Regions from separate parts of the Homo sapiens genome. Here region 1 is linked to region 2. The links come from fine-mapping of genetic effects on gene expression. Tissue or cell type: whole blood. Region 2 holds a variant in brackets; the other region holds the start of a gene. All regions are shown on one strand. Distances are from middle to middle.

The links. PIP is the estimated chance that this variant, and not a neighbour inherited with it, causes the effect.
Region 1: it holds the start of GPN1, and the variant in region 2 is fine-mapped to the expression of GPN1 in whole blood (TOPMed, PIP 0.94).

The regions. Positions count from the first base shown.
Region 1 is chr2:27,622,957-27,631,945 of GRCh38, forward strand. It overlaps GPN1 (GPN-loop GTPase 1), which reads left to right and starts at 6,094. Exons shown (of 14, transcript NM_007266.4): 1 at 6,094-6,213; 2 at 6,903-6,996; 3 at 8,071-8,110; 4 at 8,878-8,944. The coding sequence starts at 6,103. It overlaps CCDC121 (coiled-coil domain containing 121), which reads right to left and starts at 6,056. Exons shown (of 2, transcript NM_024584.5): 1 at 5,994-6,056; 2 at 2,682-4,961. The coding sequence starts at 4,843. The coding sequence ends at 4,007. ZNF512 (zinc finger protein 512) reads left to right here. Exons shown (of 14, transcript NM_032434.4): 14 at 1-261. RefSeq lists a silencer at 5,026-5,320 and enhancers at 5,769-5,828, 5,889-6,198, 6,239-6,338.
Region 2 is chr2:27,641,540-27,652,786 of GRCh38, forward strand. GPN1 (GPN-loop GTPase 1) reads left to right here. Exons shown (of 14, transcript NM_007266.4): 12 at 890-980; 13 at 6,297-6,404; 14 at 8,576-9,972. The coding sequence ends at 8,661. It overlaps SUPT7L (SPT7 like, STAGA complex subunit gamma), which reads right to left. Exons shown (of 6, transcript NM_014860.3): 6 at 9,270-11,247. It overlaps LOC124906143 (small nucleolar RNA SNORA36 family), which reads right to left and starts at 630; the gene lies at 504-630. RefSeq lists an enhancer at 11,068-11,247. The variant T/G (reference allele first, on the strand shown) is at 8,571.

The DNA.
Region 1 (8,989 bases), 20 kb before region 2:
ATTGGCAGTGTGCCCTTAAAGCCCTTTCAGTAGATGAGGGTTGTCAGGGAGGAGAAATGAAGAAGCTATGTTAATTTCTGGTGAGTAAGACCTGGGGAATGTTTGGCAATGACAAAAGAAATAAATGACTCTCAGAAAGATGTTTCCAGTGTTCTTTGACGCCGACCTGCTGCATGACTCCTTGACACTGTATGGGGGTAAGAAGATGGCTAGAGATGGGGGTGAGTTTGAAATAAATTCCACATGCAGTTGTCTCAGTAATTCTTTGGTTCATGAATTATGCTGGTTAAAATGAGTAGTTTGAGATTAAAGTGAATTAGTATAGGAAACTTGCCCAGTTTCATCCAGGGACCTCTTGCAGGCATTCCTTTCGTTTTTCCTGACCAAGACCAGGGATCAGCAGGACTCAGTATAGACTATTCTAATCACAGTATTGAGTTTTAAAGTTTTTTTAAAAAAAATTCATTAGACTAACAAACTAAGTTTGACAGTATTATGAACTTTCATACATGGTTTGGAATGCAAATTGGTACAATCACTTCAAAAGTGATTTGGCAGTATCTAGCAGAGTTGAAGATATGTACCCGAAGACTTAGCAGTTTCTCTCCTGGGTATACACAGAGTAACTCCTTTTGTCTAGGCGTACCAAGAGACACAAAAAAGAATGATTATTGCAGTACAGTTTACAGTAGAGAAATACTGAAAACAAGTATCAGAGATCTACTTTCACCTTTGCAAATTATGGGATTATAGAACAAATGGCTAGACTGTATATTTCCTAGTTATCCCCCTTCCCTCCACTCTCTCTAGTGAAGGAGAAGCCAGCTAACTCCTCTCCCATGGAATGTGAGTGGAGTGATGAATGCCACTTGCAGGTTAGAACTTTTGAGTGGGTGTACCTCCAAGCTTTCTTTACCCTTCTTCTGGCTAAATGCAGATGATGATGGGGCCCTAGGAGATGGAAGAACACAAAATGGAAGATATCTTGACCCCCTGAATCACCTGTTGAAGGAGAGCCACTTGCCAACCAGGAACATGTATCTGAGACTATTAAGTGAGCAAGAAATAAATGTCTGTTATTTGAGACATTATACATTCTTGGGTCTCTTTGTTAGCCTACTCTAATACACAATAATTATCCATTATCAGAATGGATAAATTGTGATATAGTCATACAGTAGAATACTATACAAGCTATAAAATTGAGTAGGGTTTCTCGTATCATCATGAATATGTCTCAATGTCTGGGGCCAGGCACAGTGGCTCACACCTGTAATCCTAACGTTTTGGGAGGCTGAGGCTGGAGGATCGCTTGAGCTCAGGAGTTCTAGACCAACCTGGGCAATGTGATGAAATCTCATCTCTACAAAAAAATTAAAAAAATTAGCTGGGCATTGTGGTGTGCACCTATAGTCCCAGCTAGTTGGGAGGCCGAGATGGGAGGACTTCTTGGGTCCAGGAGGTCAAGATGCTGCTATGAGCTGTGATCACACTACTGCACTCCAGCCTGCGTGACACAGTGAGACCGTCTAAAAAAATACAAAGAATATTCTGCACATCTCCTTAAAAGAGAACATTTTAGAAATTTACTCTTGCTTCATCTCTCTCTTCTTATAGCAAATCCATTAGCAAGTCCTGCCTACCACCAACTACATTTTGAATCTGTTCACTCTACTTCTGCCATTCCAATCTAAGCCATCATTACCTCTTGCCTAGACTACAGTATCTTCGTAATTGGTTTCCTTCCACTTTTTTCTGGCTTGGATACACTCCACATAACAGTTGTAGTTTTTAAAATTAGGTAAATCAGACCTCATTCACCTGCTAAAGGCCCTCGGTGCCTAAACTCCTGCTAGCCTTAATAGCCTCATCTTCCTTTCCTCCACTCATGTTCTGTGACCATTCCTCAACTATACTTTACATACACACCTTTCTGTTCCTTGAACCTACCAAGCTTATTGCCATCTTAAGGCATTTGCATTCACTGTTGCCTCTGCCTAGAATAGTTTCTTCCCCAGTTTTTGCATTGTAGGCTTCATTTTAGCAATCATAGGTCTTAAATTTCACCTCAGAGGTCTTTTCCATCTAAACTCACTTTCTGTAACATAACCCTGTGTAATTTTCTAAATAGCAAAGCAGACAAAATGCAGATTGAAATCTTAGTTGGCCAACTTGCTGCTTACTTAGAGGTATGGATTTCAAGGTATGAAATCAGTTATCATTCAACTTTTAATGTCTTCAAGCCCTCACTCTGGAAGGGACAGCCACAAGCAGTATACCATATCCATTACCTGGGATGATAAGTAAAAATGAACTGAGATCAGGTGGAAGTTACCCACTCTTGAATTAGATAATTGGGACACCAGTGGCAGGAGGGGAATTAACAGAACTAATATGCTTCCTACTTTCCAACTTTTTATCAGCCTTAGAAATACATTGTCTTAGGGTTTTTACGTCCACAGAGACTAAGCCTTCAAGTTTGTCTTGGATACCATGCTTTCCTTGTTCAGTGTTTCTGTATTTTCAGCTCACAAATTGAGATTTAGGTTAAAGTACCTGTATGCTAAAATCCTAATTTCTGCATTAAAACTAGTTTTTATTATTTGCACATGTGAATAAGACATTTAAGAGTGGTAACAGAAGAGTGATGAAGTAGAAAATGTGTTACATTGGAACAGTAATAAAATCAGTGGATAAATGTTTTTATTTAATAACATTGTTTAATAAAAAACTACATATTTAACAGAAAAGTTGTTAAAGCTACAAGGTAAAGGCACATTGAAGGAGAATGCTTTTTAAATCCAATTTTCAGGGAATTCACTTTACATGTAAATAAAGCAGAAAATGCAGGAAAATTATTTTGAAGTTTTTCATCACTTAACAATTTCTGGGAAACAAAGTTCATCCTATTTTCCCATAGAGGACCCCTGTTAAAATATAAGATTATATTCCCCTATACTAGGATTCAGCATTCAAATAAATCACTAGTCCAACTTCAATGTCGTAGAACCCAAAAAAAATATAACTATCCTAAAAATATATAATTTAAAATATAATTTATAGTTATACTAAATGGGAATAAACATATGGCACACATTAATTACAAAGGATACTTCATGTACTAGAAAGTGCACCTGTAAGAAAATTAATAAATGACCTAAAACTAAAGCATTTAGGATAACAAACATCATTTTACTTGCTATCTTTTAGAATGCTGCTAGGGAAATCGATGGCACTTAAAAAAAAAGTTGTCCAAATATTTCAACTTTTTTTGGATACGTTTTCCTGAAATAAGTGGAGGCATTCAGTCACCTCAATGCTACAGGTGTTTCTTCAAATAAAACATTTTCAAAAGTAAGAGCTGACCTAATATATGTCTCCTTCATCTTTTCTTACCTTCTCAAACTTGTAGGGGCTTAGCATCAGATGAAAGGTCACTCTGCCTAGCACTTACTGGACTTGCTGTTATCAGAATGCTTTTTCACTCATGAGAAAACTAGAAGGAGCTACCTGGTCACTGGCACAAACTCACAAAGAGCTTGTAAAAACTGCTTTTGTCTGCTAAGTTGGTCAAAAGGAATGAGGATAAACTGGCAGAACGCTATTCAAAGTCTATTTGGAATGCTATCCTTAAAGGTACTTTCTCTATAAAGAAATACAATTTAGCTAGATGAAATAAATCACAACTGTTTTCACTTCCTTAGGTTGGTTTCCTTTAGCTAGTTTGATGTATGGTAAATGGCTAGGTTAGGGTCATGTGTTAGGTTAACTGGAGGTTTGTGGAATAGCTTATTAACGAGTATTTAAAGAAAAAGCTAGTTAAGGGAAGCTGGTTACCAAATATCTAGTAGGACTGTTGGATAAAACCATCTAATCCTTCACTCCAACACATCATGATGGAGATTTTACAATAGCAATCTGGAATCCAACAGCCTTTCTAACCAGGTTAATGTAGCACTTAAGAGTACTTGCTCCAGTTCTTATTTAATCAGTGTTATTTTAGAAGTTACTTTGGATTAATCCTTGATTTGGTGCCTTGGGGAAGACTGGGTGTGGTCTTTGGAACATCCTGTCTATTTAGGCACTGATTATGACTTCCTTGCAGTCTCTGCCTCGCCTGGATTAAGGACTCCAGATACCACTGTTCCTGCTGCAGCTGCTGCTTCCTGTTTTCTAAGTGGCTTTGAGTAGCCGTTAGTTTCTGGGCTTGCTCAATTAGCTGCAGTAATTCCTTCTTGAACTGCTGGTTCTCTCTGTTGATGCCACAGGAGTATTCAAAAATAAACCGCTTTGCTGCCAACTTCAAGGCCTGGGCCTTCATATTAAGCTCTCTTCTTTTTCTCTTTCCCAGTAGCCTCCTGTCTGGCTCGCTCAGTTGTTTCTCCAGTAATCTTTTCTCCTGGAGGAGCTGGGCCTGTACTTCCCGTGTCTTTGAAGCTGTCTCAGCTTGGACTTTCTTTGTCTCCTCCTGTAATGTCTGTATTTCTTTCTCCTGCTTTTCCTTTAATATAGCAATGTCCCTCATTGCCTGCAACTTCCGCTTCAAACTGGATTGGATATTTTCCTTTTGCAAGAGCGCTGTTTTAAGCACTGAAATTTGTTCTGCATATCTGGAGGCTGATTCTTGTCTTCTTCGTTCAATCTCTCCACTTTTTTGTAAATAGCTGTTCCATACCTTCTCAGGTTGCTCTGTGTACTCTTCAGTTTTGTTAGTCAGGTATTCCAGAAAGAATCTGTTTTCAGCCTGGACAAGTAACTTTTCTCGGTGTAGCTCCCTGGATTCCTCCAGTAGCTGTTTCCGCTGGGTTTGAGCTTGTTTTATATGCTTGTTCAGATCCGTCATTTCCGCCACTATCTTTTCTTTAAGCCTTGTCTCTACCTTTGTTAGCTTCTCTGGCTTGACAAAATTATTTATTAGACTATGATACGGTGGAAGGAGCCTTCTGGGGCCCTCAGCAAACCTGAAAGAACAAACGAGACATTCCTCTGTCAGTTAATGAAACTTTAGGAAGTAAGTGCACAACTGTCCTTCATTCATACAAGAGAATATTTCTGAGCACCAGAATGTTCCAGACATTATGCAAGGTGTGGGGAATCCAGCTAGTGGTAAAGGATGAGGAATGTAGCTCGTCATTTACAACGTGCATTCACTACAACCCTGGGAGGTATTACCTCAGTTTTAAAAAAGGAGAAAACAGGTTCAGAGAGTTTAAGTGACTTGCCCATGACTCACACCACTAGCAAGTGGCAGAGCCTGGGTATTAAAGCCAGATCTTATGACTTACTGAACACTGTTTGCAGCTACAAAGGGTCACAGAAACAGACTGGGTGGTCAGGAGTAGAAATAATTTTCTAGGCTCTTTCATCATCTTTCCTGAGTTTCTGAGGGACCTTCAGTGACTGGAGGGGAGGAAGCTCCCCTCCAGTACCTACTTGCACCTGGAATCCAAGCATTCATCCTGAAGGTCACGGCAACTGTGTAGTTCACTGAGGGTGACTGCCAAGGAATGAGCGCTAGCATCAGGAACCTGCGTCTGCAACTCGCGGGAACAATGTGCAAGTGTGGAAAGCTCCCGTAGTTTATTCGTTCGGTGCTCAAAGGGTCTCGGTGCTGCCCAGCAACCCTGGAGACTGCACCCTGCTCCAGTCCCGGCTGGTCCAGCCCTGAACTGTTTAACCGCCTCGGCTACCGAATAAGCCCGAGCAGCCGGTCCTCCAGTGGCTCCGCTCCCCGTTCTCTGTGGGCTCAAAATGACAGGCATGCTCCTCGTTTTCTTGCTGTGTGAGCCCTGCCCTCGGGACCCCATCTCTTCTGGCCTTCCTCCGGGAGACAAAAGCCCTCCCAGGCTGCAGAGATCAGCGCCCTTTTCCTAGCTCCCTTCAGCCTTCCTCTCGCTTGCTCAGCGCCCCCACTTCCTCGCCACTGTCACTAGTTGACTCATCAGCCCTGCCCGACGCTAAGAAGATGCCCTGGCAACCGCCGCGCCCCTCACCCGCTCCTTTCTGACGCTGTGGTGGTTTTCGTTCGCAGCCCAGAACATTGCGGAAGTTTCTCTACCCATGCGGTGTCTCTATGGTCGGGTGGGTGGGGCCAGGAGGAAGATGGCGGCGTCCGCAGCTGCCGCTGAGCTCCAGGCTTCTGGGGGTCCGCGGCACCCAGTGTGTCTGTTGGTGTTGGGAATGGCGGGATCCGGGAAAACCACTTTTGTACAGGTGACGTACACAGCATGGGTGTAGTAGGGGAGCGCAAAAGGTTGCCTCCGGCAGGCGGAAGGCCAGGAAGAAAGGGAGGGAAGAGGATTTGGAGGGTACCGGCGCATGGCTTTCGGGGGCTTCCCATCAACTTTAGTTCCTTCCCCGGCAAAGCCTCCTCGGGCCCTAGCCAGGTTAATTAAGGCTCTCTTCTGCGCACCTTCAGGGCATACTCGGTCCAGCTTACCACGTTGTACAGGAATTGTCTTGCTGATAAAATTGCGTTTCTCGGAGGCAAGTTACAAGTAACTTTAAAGATTAATACAGTGCTAGCACACAGGTTTTGGTGAAGATTTGCCAAATATTTCTTGCACGCCTGTCATGTTCCATTCACTGGGGATATAGCGAAAATGAGGTTGACAAGATTCATTCGTGGGGCCAAATATTTAATGGAGGAGATAGAGAAAACCCACATACGAAGAATCAAAACAAGTAAACAAGTGACTACGAGTAGGGGAAGCTTTGTTAGATGGGTGATGAAGAAAGGTAGCATTTGAACTGAGAGTTGTATCTTGGAGGTGGACATGGTGGATATTTCAGGTAGAAGAAAATCTAAGTGCAATATTCTTAAGGCATGGGTGTTAAAGGAATGGAAGTTCTCTCTTGTCCCCTCTTTGTCTCCTTCCAACCCTCTCCCCATATCTCTGCAGAGGCTCACAGGACACCTGCATGCCCAAGGCACTCCACCGTATGTGATCAACCTGGATCCAGCAGTACATGAAGTTCCCTTTCCTGCCAATATTGGTGAGTAAACCAGTAACATAACTTGTGTGCAGTGCTTTAAAGAGAATGGAAAAGGCCAGGCGTGGTGGCTCACGGCTGTAATCTCAGCACTTTGGGAGGCCGAGGCAGGTAGATCACGAGGTCAGGAGTTCAAGACCAGCCTGGCCAAGATGGTGAAACTCCATCTCTACTAAAAATACAAAAAATTAGCCAGGCACGGTGGCAGGCACCTGTAATTCCAGCTACTCGGGAGGCTGAGGCAGGAGAGTTGCTTGAACCCGGGTGGCAGAGGTTGCAGTGAGCCAAGATCGTGCCACTGCACTCCAGCCTGGTCAATAGAGTGAGACTCTGTAAAGCCTCCAGCCTGCCAGTCTTCAGTGCCTTCTTTTTTCATGTTTTCTAAACTATCTACTTTCATTTCCTTTGGATTTGCTTGCATTCCTAAACAGCTTAGGTTTTTTTTTTTTTTTTTTTTTTTTTAGACAGAGTCTCTGTCACCCAGGCCAGAGTGCAGTGGCGTGATTCACAGGTCACTGCAGCCTCAACATCCCAGGCTCAAGTGATCCTCCCACCTCAGCCTCCTGCCGCTATGCTGGGCTAGTTTTGTTTTGTTTGGAGAGACAAGGCCTCTCTATGTTGCCCAGGCTGGTCTTGAACTCCTGGGCTCAAGTAATCCTCCTGCCTTGGCCTCCCAAAGTGCTGGGATTATAGGTGTGAGCCACTGTGCCCAGCCTAACTCCTTTTAAAAAATCATGTCTGCATTGCCATTGTGTTGCCTTTGTCAGTAATAGGCAATTAGTAAGAAGCATTTTTTCCCCCTTGATTTTTGCCTCCCTTTTTCTAGGCATGTTTAAGTTGCATGAAACTTTGCACTTTGTGGAGACAAAACTCTTTGCCACAACTTTAGAGCTCCTAGCCCTAACATTCTTCATGATTTACTTGGCATTTATTCTTTGTAAGGAAGGAAACCAGTGTGAAAGTGGAGGTGGTAGAAGAGAATGCTGACAGGAGAAGGCTAGAAGGCCAGTTTTACTTTCCTGGTGGTAGGGAATGTGTATGTATTACATTCCAGTTAATTCTTTTTTTTCTCCTCAGATATTCGTGATACTGTAAAGTATAAAGAAGTAATGAAACAGTATCCTTTTCCATCTACTTTGGTCTTGACTCATTCCTGGCTTCTTGTCTGTGTATTTTGTGGCTTGAAAGAGTGTTTTTGCCTTTTCCTTGTGAAATATACAAGCAAAAGGATGGAAGCTGATTGTGGGAGAGGTAGGTGATCAGAAATACTATTTCAGCTTGAGATTTTAGTTTTCTTACCATCTCCCCAGATGGCAGGCTGTTGTAATTAAAGAGCAGAGAGTATGATAGGATAACTGACAGCTACCTGGGTCCCACAAGGTAGTATTTTGCCTTGGAGGATCATCTGTTGGTCACCACCTCTTTAGACTGGGAAACTCAGAAATGAGTGAGTTTAGTTGGATTAACTCTTAGTAAATTGCTGTATGAAATGTGTACTCTCTCCGTAGGCAAGTCTAAGTAGGAAGACTAATCATAATCAGCAGATTGCTTGGTTTATTTATGAGGATCAGAGCCGGAGGTGTTATACAGGTGGCCTTAATGACCAATGCCAGTGGGCTGTCACTGCCTGATGCACCTGTATTACATTTTGGTCACTTTGCTTTCTTCATTTTGCCTGACCACTCCTTAAATCAAATGAGTGAGCCAGACCTTGATAATGACTGTTTCCCTGTGTGGTTAAGTTTGTATGGTAGTCAAGGATTAGGTTGCCAGTATCCATTAATGGAACACTAATTTCATAATGCCGTTTGTGTGAATGATAGCCTAGGTATGAACTTTATAATCTAATCTATAAGCGATTTCAGTCCTCAACTTGGTGTCTAGATATGGACTTGGACCCAATGGCGGCATAGTGACCTCACTCAATCTCTTTGCTACCAGATTTGATCAGGTATATCTGTCTTTAGTATATTAATATGGTTGTGTAAAAATCTGT
Region 2 (11,247 bases):
GTCAATTTAAAGCTAGTTGTAGAATTTTGTATAAGAGTGTAGTGGTGCTTCACAACTCCTTTTCTTGTTGTTGAGAAAGGGTCTCACTCTGTCACCCATGCCAGAGTGCAGTGGCACGATCGCGGCTCACTGCAGCCTCGACCTTTTGGGCTTAAGCGATCCTCCCATCTCAGCCACCCGAGTAGCTAGGACAACATGTATGTACCACATGCCTGGCTAATTTTATTTTGTAAATTTTTTGTATAGACAAGGTCTCACCGTGTTGCCCAGGCTGGTCTCAAATTCCTGAGCTCCTGCAGTCCTCCCTGCTGGGCCTCCTGTAGTGCTAGGATTACAGGCAGGTGCCACCATGCCCAGCCTTCTCTTATCCCAAATGATCGAGTGTCCTGCTTCCTTAGGCTCATTGGATCCTTTGTCTCTGAGCCTTCCTGCTATGTCTACTTCAGGTTTTTGTGTTTTTTTTCCCCCATATAATAAAGTTTATTGTATCTTTTGTTTTTTCATTTTGTAGGCTGGGGATGAATAAAGAGTAATGCTTTCTATGTAGGCATTTTGCCTAGCCAGTTTAAATGTTCCAGTTCAATTAACAGAGCAGGGGATCCACCCTGGACTGAACTCAACACTTTAGAATTGAGGGTTCTTTTGAAACCTTTTTGTGTTCCGTTTCTGAACCCTCTAAATCAGTCTGCAGAGCCCTCCAGTCTAAACTTCTGCAGTAACCCAGGCCCACGCTACTTAGTGTTTCTGTCCCTATACCAGACGTCCCTTATCTGCATCAGTTTTTATGTAGCCTCTAGTATTTGTATAATTCTTCATCTCCACTGAGAAGTCTGGCATCTAATTTGGGACTCCTTTTTGAATATGATGACATTTTTCTCTGTATATACAGGCCAACGCAGAGAGCCAACAGCAGAGAGAACAACTGGAACGCCTTCGAAAAGATATGGGTTCTGTAGCCTTGGATGCAGGGACTGCCAAAGGTATTGGAGGGTTTCTTGGTGTTAGGAACTAAAAAAAGGTTACACTTCTTTCTTTTATTTATTTATTTATTTTTGAGACGGAGTTTCACTCTTGTTGCCCAGGCTGGAGTCTCGGCTCACCACAACCTCCACCTCCCAGGTTCAAGCAGTTCTCCTGCCTCAGCCTTCCTGAGTAGCTGGGATTACAGGCATGTGCCACCACACCCGGCTAATTTTGTATTTTTAGTAGAGATGGGGTTTTTTCCATGTTGGTCAGGCTGGTCTCGAACTCCTGACCTCAGATGATCCACCCACCTGGGCCTCCCAAAATGCTGGGATTACAGGCATGAGCCACTGTGCCTGGCCGGTTACACTTATTTCTATCAGCAGGATTCTGTTTATATATGAGAGAGAGAAAGAGAAAAAGATAAAGGAAATGTGGTTTTATATATATATATATACACACACACACACACACACACACACACACACACACATACATATGCATACATATATATTAAAAAATAAAGGATTTGGAAAGGCAAATTTGAAATTATATACAGCTCTACCACTTTGGGTTCCTCTTTCAGGAAGTTTTTGCTTTACTTTGGCAATATACTTGATGTGTGCTGTGGTGGTTTTTTTTGTTTGTTTCTAACACTTTTAACCCTCCTCAATTTTTTTTATAATTAAAAAAAATTTTTTTTTTTTTACAGTTTGACCTTAATTTCAGATTTACAGAAGTTACATGAATAATACAAATAATTGCCATAATTATTCTATCAGATTCCCAAAATGTTAACATTCTACCATGTTTACTTTATTCTTTATCTATATATGACTTTATATGTTATATAAATATATATTTTTCCTGAATCATTTGAGTAAGTTACAGATATAATACTCTTTTACCTTGAATAATTCAGTGTCTTTTTCCTAAAAACAAGGATATAATTTTATATAACCTCAGTGCAGTTATCAGAAATCAGGAAATTAACATTGACATAATACTATAATATTAGCTAACATATAGATCTTATTCAGATGTAGCCATTTCCCCATGATAGCAGGAGAAAATCTGGATGTGCATTGTATTTAATTCTCACATGCCTTATACTCCTTTAGAATCTGGAACAGTGCCTTAGTCTGACTTTGTATTTCATGACTGACATTTTTTAAGCATGTAGGATAGTTATTTTATAGAGCATCCTTCAGTTTAGGTTTGTCTCATGTTTCCTCATGATTTGATTCAGGTGACTAATTTTTGAATTGTGTTTTTTCAAGGAATCACATTGGGAGGCACGTGATGTTGATTTGTCCCATTACTGGTGATGTTAACTTTGAGTATTTTTATAAAGTGGTGTATGCTACGTTTTTCATAAAGAATTACTATTTTTAGGCCGGGCGCAGTGGCTCACGCCTGTAATCCCAGCATTTTGGGAGGCCGAGGCGGGTGGATCACTTGAGGTCAGGAATTCGAGACCAGCCTGGCCAACATGGTGAAACCCCATCTCTCCTAAAAATACAAAAAATTAGCTGGGCGTGGTCGTGCATGTCTGTAATTCCAGCTACTCGCTGAGGCTGGAGAGTCTCTTGAACCCGGGAGGCAGAAGTTGCAGTGAGCAAAGATCGCGCCACTGCACTCCAGCCTGGGTGACAGAGTGAGACTCCCTCCATCTTAAAAACAACAACAACAAAAATTACTATTTTTAAATATGGCTGTTTTTCTGTTTGTAATAAGAATTTTGTGGGGTGATGCTTTGAGACTATAAATATCCTTTTAGTTTTCTAATGTTCACCCATTAGTTTTAATATCCATTGATATAATAGGAATATCAATTTTTCTGTGATTATATGTTGCAAATGTTTAATATTTTCTCCCTATCAGTTATCCTTTGACTTTGTTCACGGTGTTATTTTGCCATGCAAAAGTTCTTATTTTGTTTTGATGTAGTCAAATTGATCTATCTTTTATTGCATCTGGGATTTTAAGTCACAGTTAGGAAGCCTCTATATATACCTATGTTAAAGAGGAATTCACCTATTTTTTTTTATAGATTTGTCTGGTTTTATTTTCTAAATTGAGATCCCCGATTAATTTAGAGTTTATTCCTGGCTATAGTATAAGGTATATAAGTCGGTGTTATTTTTTTCATAAATAGTTGTATCTGTATGATTTATTTAAAAGTCTGCCTTTGCCTTAGTGAGTTTTTTTTTTGGTAGTGTTTTTTTTTTTTTTTTTTTTACAGATGAGGTCTGAGGCTGGTCTGGACCTCCTGGGCTCAAGCGATTTTTCCATCTCAGCCTGCCAACTAGTTTGGATAGGTGTATGCCACTGCACCTGGCTTGTAACAGCGATTTGAGATGCTACGTGTATAATGTTCCAGACCAGCCTCAGACCTCATCTCTAAATGTAGTAAAGTTCCATGCATACTTGAGTATACTTCTATATTATTTCACTGGACTGTTTATTTATTTATTTTTTTTGAGATAGTTTCTCACTCTGTCACCCAGGCTGGAGTGCAGTGGCGCAATCATAGCTCCCTGCAGCCTCGAACTACTGGGCTCAAGCATTCCCCCTGTCTCAGCCTCCAGAGTAGCTAGATCTACAGGTGTGTGCCACCACGTCTGGCTAGTTTTAAGGAAATTTTTAATAGAGACGAGGTCTCACCATGTTGCCCAGGCTGGTCTTGAACTCTTGGCCTCAGGCAGTCCTCCTGTCTTGGCCTCCCAAGGTGTTGGGATCATAGGCATAAGCCACCATCCCCAGCCCATTTTTTTTTTCTTTTAACTTGCTTTGGTGAGCAAGGACTCCTTACTTTTATGCCTGTACCATGTTGTTTTAATTATGTAATTATGTTTCAATATCTGCTAGATCAGATTCTCCTCCTAATTTTTATTTGGCTGTCCTTACATGTTCTTCCATATGAACTGAGTATCAACTTTATCTAGTTCCTTAAAAAAGCTTTTTGGTATTTTAGTTGGGATTACATTATATTCATAATTAATTTAGGGAGAAGTGACATCTCTATGATGTTCAGTCTTGCTACCCAAGACCACAGAGTGTCTTTGTATTTGTCAGGTCTACTTGTGTCTTTCAGGAGTGTTTCCAGTTTTCCATATATAGGTTTTTCTTATTTCTTTTTAAAATGTTTTTGTTATTTTAGCCAACCTTTTTGACCAAGAGTTTTTGCCTGTTTCTTTTTAATTTTTTTTTTTTAAAACAAATCATCTTTATGTATTTGTTTTGAGACAGGGTCTTGCTCTGTCACCCCAACTGGAGTGCAGTGGTGTGATCTTGGCTCACTGCAGCCTCTGCCTCCTGGGTTCAAGCTATTCTCCTGCCTCAGCCTCCCAAGTAGCTGGAACTAGAGGTGCCTGCCACCATGCCGGGCTAAATTTTGTATTTTTAGTGGAGATGAGGTTTTGCCGTGTTGCCCAGGCTGGTCTCGAACTCCTGGGCTCAAGTGATCTGCCCACCTCAGCCACCCAAAGTACTGGGATTACAGGTGTGAACCACTGTACCCAGCTTGAAATTTATGTATGTATGTATTTATTTTTGAGGCAGAGTCTTGCTCTGTCACCTAGGCTGGAGTGCAATGGCGCGATCTCGGCTCACTGCAACCTCCGCCTCCCGGGTTCAAGCGATTGTTGTGCCTCAGCCTCCTGTGTAGCTGGGACTACAGGCACATGCCACCACGCCCAGCTAATTTTTGCATTTTTAGTAGAGACAGGGTTTTGCCATGTTGGCCAGGCTGGTCTTGAACTCCTGACCTCAGGTGATCTGCCCATTTCAGCCTCCCAAAGTGCTGGGATTACAGGCATGAGCCACCATGCCCAGCCCCAGCTTGAAATTTATTCTAAGTATTTAACCTTCTTCATTACTGTTGAAAATGGGATTTTCTGGACCGTTACATCTTATAACTGGTTTATGTTTGTATGTATGAAGGCTTTTGATTTCTGTATATTCATCTTTTATCCTGCTACTTTACTGAATTAAAAATTTTTTTTTAGTTTTATCATTGGCTCTGCAGGGGTTTTTAGGTTAGTTTTCATTTACAGCCCACCTTCCACCCCCACCCCTGTATATTGAGGGACTGCCCTCAAGATTCAGATGCAAGTCTATTGCAGCTTAGTGGAATCCTGCAACCAAATTGACTGTACTTAAAAGAAAAGCTCCATTTATTTATTTATTGTAATAAATTGTACATTTATTTTTTCTTCTCATCAGCAACACTAGCATTTTTTTTTTCTGGGACATCTTTCTTAAAGGAGTGATGCTTCTGTTCATGAAAGTTATTGCTCTATATCTAGTAGAGAACAGCAAAGCTAGTAACGGACTGGGTTTACCAGTTAAGTGTACTCACTTGTGCCATCCTGTTGTACAGCTCAGCAAAATACATTTCTATGTGCCACAGTCCTTTAGAATCACTTCTGAATATGTGAAGTCAATGTTAAAACTACTGCTGCAAAGGGTCTGCTGTAGTCAGCTAACCTGTTGAAGGTTGGGAGAGTTTAAGTAAATCATTTGAGGAAAGTCACAAGTATAGTTGCATAATTGTTAGGCACAGAATGAAGCATTTACTGTCAGCATGTCCTGTCATCCTCCTTTTTCAGGCCCACAGGCCCCTTGAGATTTGTGCCAGTTGATGTTGCTGTCTCTGGCCACCCTTATTCCCTAGCTGAGCTCTCGCAAGCCTCATAGGCTCCTGAAGAGAGAGTGACTATGTCCTCCCATGGCAGTAGTGACTTGATTAGACTTCTCTCTGATTACTGGAGCTCAGCCCTCACTAGTTTTTCTGAATAGGGAATTTTACTTCTATTAGTGTATTTGATTTTCTATTTTTCCCCTCCCTCCTCTTCTTAAATAATACCCTGGCTCCTTGATAACATTTCACCCTGTATTTTCTGCAGACCTTCTCTGAACTTACATTTCCACCAGGAGGCTTCCTTAGCACTCCACACTTTCACTGTGACTCACCAGCACACTGGATCTGCTCAAATGTTGTTAGCTTTCATAGGAAAAACCATCACCCCTTCCAAGCTGTGAGCCAGTAAAAAAGAATGATGCTACTAGTAAGACAAGCTTCTTGAAAATTATTTCCCTCAGCTTAAAAAAATGGGACTCCTAGGGCTATTTGCCTTATGAAAGCACTTTGTGAACTAAGCTATTATAGAAATGTTAAGTGGTATTAACAATACATTTAGAAGAGGTAAGATCCTGCGTTTATATGTATCATGAGCACTTTCATCCTGCCAGTTTATGATCATAGTTACTTAGTGATTCAAGATCACCTTTTTGAGGAGGCATATCACTGATAGGTGTTTTCACTGTAGACAGCTTATCTCCTGTGCTGCACCCTTCTGATTTGATCCTGACTCGAGGAACCTTGGATGAAGAGGATGAGGAAGCAGACAGCGATACTGATGACATTGACCACAGAGGTGAGAGGTGGCTGAGGTGGCCCGTGGCAACAGAGCATCTGCTTATCCTCACATTGTTTGCCCAGGAGTTTCTTGCTTTAAGCGTGTAGCCAGTAATAGTGGATAAAGGATACAGCACCAGAAAAGAGTTTCCTATATTGAGAGTTCCTGTCCTGCCTACTGGATGGTTAATACTGAGCTGATTACAGGCCTTTCGTTGGTCTTGTGTCTTCTTATCTTTAGGTCCTAACTTGGTTTGAGGGATCCAGGACTTTTGTTTGTTGTTATTAGTATTTTGTTTTAAGAATATGTAAGGGCTGGGTGTGGTGGCTCATGCCTGTAATCCCACTGCTTTGGGAGGCCAAGTCAGGAGGATTGCTTGAGGCCAGGAGTTCTGGACAAGCCTGGGCAACATAGTTAGTCCCACTCTCTACAAAAAAGAAAAAAATAGCTGGGCATGGTTACTCACACCTGTAGTTCAAGCTGTTTGGGAGGCTGAGGTGGGTGGGTTGCTTGAGCCCAGAAGTTTGAGGCTATTATGAGCTATGACTGTGCCACAGAACTCCAGGCTGGGTGACAGAGTAAGACCATCTCAAAAACAAAAAACACAAATAATACATAAGGTTATATGGACTAAAACAGTAAGGATAGAATGGCTCTGGAAACCCAAATTCCACTTGGCATAGTTTTATGGACTGTGCGCAGAATCTAATTGTTACTATTATTTTTTTGAGACAGAGTTTTGCTTCATTGCCCAGGCTGGAGTGCAGTGGCACGATCTCAGCTGACTGCAACCGCTGCCTCCCGGGTTCAAGTGATTCTCCCACTTCAGCCTCCAGAGTAGCTGGGACCACAGGCACATGCCATCACAGCTGGTTAATTTTTTATATTTTTAGTAGAGACGGGGTTTCGCCATGTTGGCCAGGCTGGTCTCGAACTCCTGGCCTCAAGTGATCCGCCCATCTCGGCCTCCCAAAGTGCTGGGATTACAGGCATGAGCCACCATGCCCTGCCAGAATCTGATTCTTGAAACAACCATAGGCCGGGCACGGTGGCTCACGTCTGTAATCCCAGCACTTTGAGAGCCAAGGTGGGCGGATCACCTGAGGCCAGGAGTTCAAGACCAGCCTGACCAACATGGTGAAACCCCATCTCTACTACAAGTACAAAAAATTAGCTGGGCTTGGTGGCAGGCACCTGTAATCCCAGCTACTTGGGAGGCTGAGGCAGGAGGACTGCTTGAACCTGGGAGGCGGAGGCTGCAGTGAACTGAGAGCTCACCATTGCACTCAGGCCTCGGTAACAAGAGTGAAACTTGATCTCAAAAAACAAACAAACAAACAAACAAAAAAACACGAAAACCACCATACGATTTAGGTCTTAGCTATGGCCAAGAGCAAATCTCCTTATTCTTTAGGCTGGGTTTTACATGTAAATTGCCTTATTTAATCAGATTTTTTAAGATGTAGTTTACCAACAGTGAAACTCACTTTTTGAGTATATAGTTTGATGAGCTTTAATAAATATATACTTTCTTGTAACCACAATCACAGTTGAAATGTAGAGCACTTCCCTCACCCCCCAAAACTTCCTCATGCCCCTTTTTTTTCAGTCCCCATCCTGAACACCTAGTGCCTGGCAACCACTGACTGATTTCTGTTCCTTTGATCTTGCCTTTTCCAGAATGCCATAGAAATAGAATCACAGTATTTAGCCTTTTGCATTTGACTTTTTTGACTCAGTAGTGTAGTCTCTCCATGTTGTTGCATGTATCAGTATGTTCTTTTTTATTGCTGAGTGATATTCCATTATTGTGGATGTTCCACAGTTTGTTTATCCATTCCCCAGTGGACTGATATTTGGGTAGATTTTAGCTATTATGAGTAAAGCAACTATAAACGTTTCCAAATAGATCTTTGTGTAGACGTATGTTTTCATTTCTCTTGGTTAAAAATACCTACAAGTGGGACCTTATTTTAGCTACTATGAGGGAGGTATTCTTTCTACTTATAAAGAAACTACATTTTGGGCAGCATGATAGAGCATGCTTCTAGGAGACATTTCCTTTTTGAGGGAAGTGAGTACTTAAGTTTCTTAGAAGTAATGTACTGTTTTCTGATGGATGGGTGACGGGCTCTAATCAGTTTGTCTAATGAAAGAGTTGAAAAAGAATTGCCCTTTTTTCCT[T/G]GCAGTTACAGAGGAAAGCCATGAAGAGCCAGCATTCCAGAATTTTATGCAAGAATCGATGGCACAATACTGGAAGAGAAACAATAAATAGGAGACTTTAGCACACTTCACTTGTTTCTAGAAGTCCAGAATTTTGGACCTCCACGTGAAAGAACTGTTCTTACCTCTGAACTGGGGGCTCCCATAAGGGATAATTTTCCTCAGAGTAGCAAAGTTTCTCTTATTAGAGAAATCTTGTGACTCAGATGAAGTCAGGGATAGAAGACCCTTGGACCTGGCAGGTTAATGCTGATTATTCCTTGGCCTTTCCCTTGTATTTATGCAAGGAAGGATATACTGAGCTGATACTCTTCCAAGCCTACAACTTCAAGTTTTATCATTTGAACTCAAGTACTTTTGCTGCTGAGGAATGGAATCAAAAGAACGTAGTCTCCTGGTGACCACCTCAGATCTCTATTATTAGGCTAGATGTATAGCCTCTACTCCCCCAGCTTCTTGCTCTTGACCCTGCACTGTAAGTTGCCCTTCTATTAGCAGCCAAGGAAAAGGGAAACATGAGCTTATCCAGAACGGTGGCAGAGTCTCCTTGGCAATCAACCAACGTTGCTATGAAATATGCCTCACACTGTATAGCTCATTATAGGACGTCAGGTTTGTTGAAAAAAGTGGGCAAGACATGATTAATGAATCAGAATCCTGTTTCATTGGTGACTTGGATAAAGACTTTTTAATTTTAACTTTGTTCTAAGACTGCTTGTCATGATTTCAAATTAGAAAATTATATAATTGCAAACAGCTTCACTTCTCCTGTTCAACAGAGGCTTAAGGCCAGATGTCCAAACTTGTCTCAATAAGGAGGTGATATTTTACTAAAGTTTCCCACGTGCACATACTGACTAAATACAGAGCTAGGCCCAGTTTGTATTGTACTCTGAACTTAATGCAAAGTCTCCTTGGTGATTTTCGCAAAGTCCGTGGATTTGGGTCAGAGGCACATTTCATACATAACAGCCCTTATAAACGTTTGCCCTGCCTCCACATTTTACAGTATCTTAAAACAGTACATTTCTTTCAAAGAATTTTATCTCTATGAGTCAGTACTCCAACTTAGTGGTTCTCACATTGTGGACCAGGAGCATCAGCATCATCTGGGGAATTGTTCAACTTACCTCTTATAACCTATGAACTCAGAAACCCTGGGGGTGGGCTGAGCAGTCTGTTTTAGAAAGCCCTCCATGTGATTCTGATGCATAGTAGCCTATGACATAATTCCAGACCAGGTGAATCTCAAGATACTAATCCTCACATCATTTGCCTTCTCATATTTCCCTCGTCTTGACCATCTGGTGCCTGTTATGCAGTTTAACATTCTGCAGCAATAAAAGTGTTTTATTATAAAGTATTAATTTTAATGTTCTATACTTAGTGGGAACCACTGGTCTCAAAATTTGAAGCTATTCTTTAAGAGGAGAACATTCGCAAAACTCAAGCATACTTGGTTTTTCTCTGTAGTACTTTTGAATGCTTTATCTTCCTTACAGAATAACTTGTCTTCCTTATGCTTCAAGCTCCAAAAGGGTAAGGAAGAAGTCTTAATCATTTTTGTATTCCTTGCACAGGACCTAGCAAATAATTGGTACTCAATGTTTGCTGGATGAATGAACTAAATTCCCATACGGCCACTTTATGGAAACTAACTGCCTAATCGCCACTTTCATTATAAACAAAGGAAAATGAAGATAAGACTGCAACAGAGGCCAGGTGCAGTGGCTCACGCCTGTAATCCCAGCACTTTGGGAGCCCGAGGCGGGCAGATCACTTGAGGTCAGGAGTTTTGAGACCAGCCTGGCCAACACGGTGAAACCTCATCTCTACTAAAAATGCAAAAATTAGCTGGGTGTGGTGGCATGTGCGTGTAATCCCAGCTACTCAGGTGGCTGAGGCAGGAGAATCGCTTGAACCTGGGAGGCAGAGGTTGCAGTGAGTCGAAATTGCACCATTGCACTCCAGCCTGGGTGACAGAGCAAGACTCCATCTCAAAAATAAATAAATAAATAAATAAATTAAAAAAAAGACTGTGACAGAAAGGGTTTAGAGAAATGTGCTAAAGAGTTACAATTGGCAAATTTAAAATTATATGTTAAACTATAACCTCATTTGTATCATATTCATTTATTCTCAATACCTGGGACATTTAAGGCATTCAATAATGAATTAAAGCTGTGCCTTATTTTGGTCTGCATTAAAGGAGTGGTCTAAATTTTACAAGATATATTTTGCATCAGAAAATCAAACTTCAGCAGTTTAACATGCTGGCATCCATCACCAAGGCATGAAGCAACACATTTGCTAATGATTCCTAATCACTACAGTGCTACATCATTTACTTAATAAATACTGATTCAGTACTTATATATACAGATAGTCTGATGGATGAGTAACCACAGTGATGTTGTTCAGGACATGATGTAAAGTTGAAAGGTGCATATTGCTATGTTTTAAAGGCTGCCTTTACAGTAGAAGCAGCAAAGTGTGCTTAATGGACTGCTGTCCTCTGATGACCAAGCAAATGCAACAAATGAAATATGCACAAGGCTGTCCTTGGACAGTACTTGTTTGCTTTGCTCACAAAGGAGAAAAGGAAAGAAACAATTGAAAATATGTATATGGTGAAAGT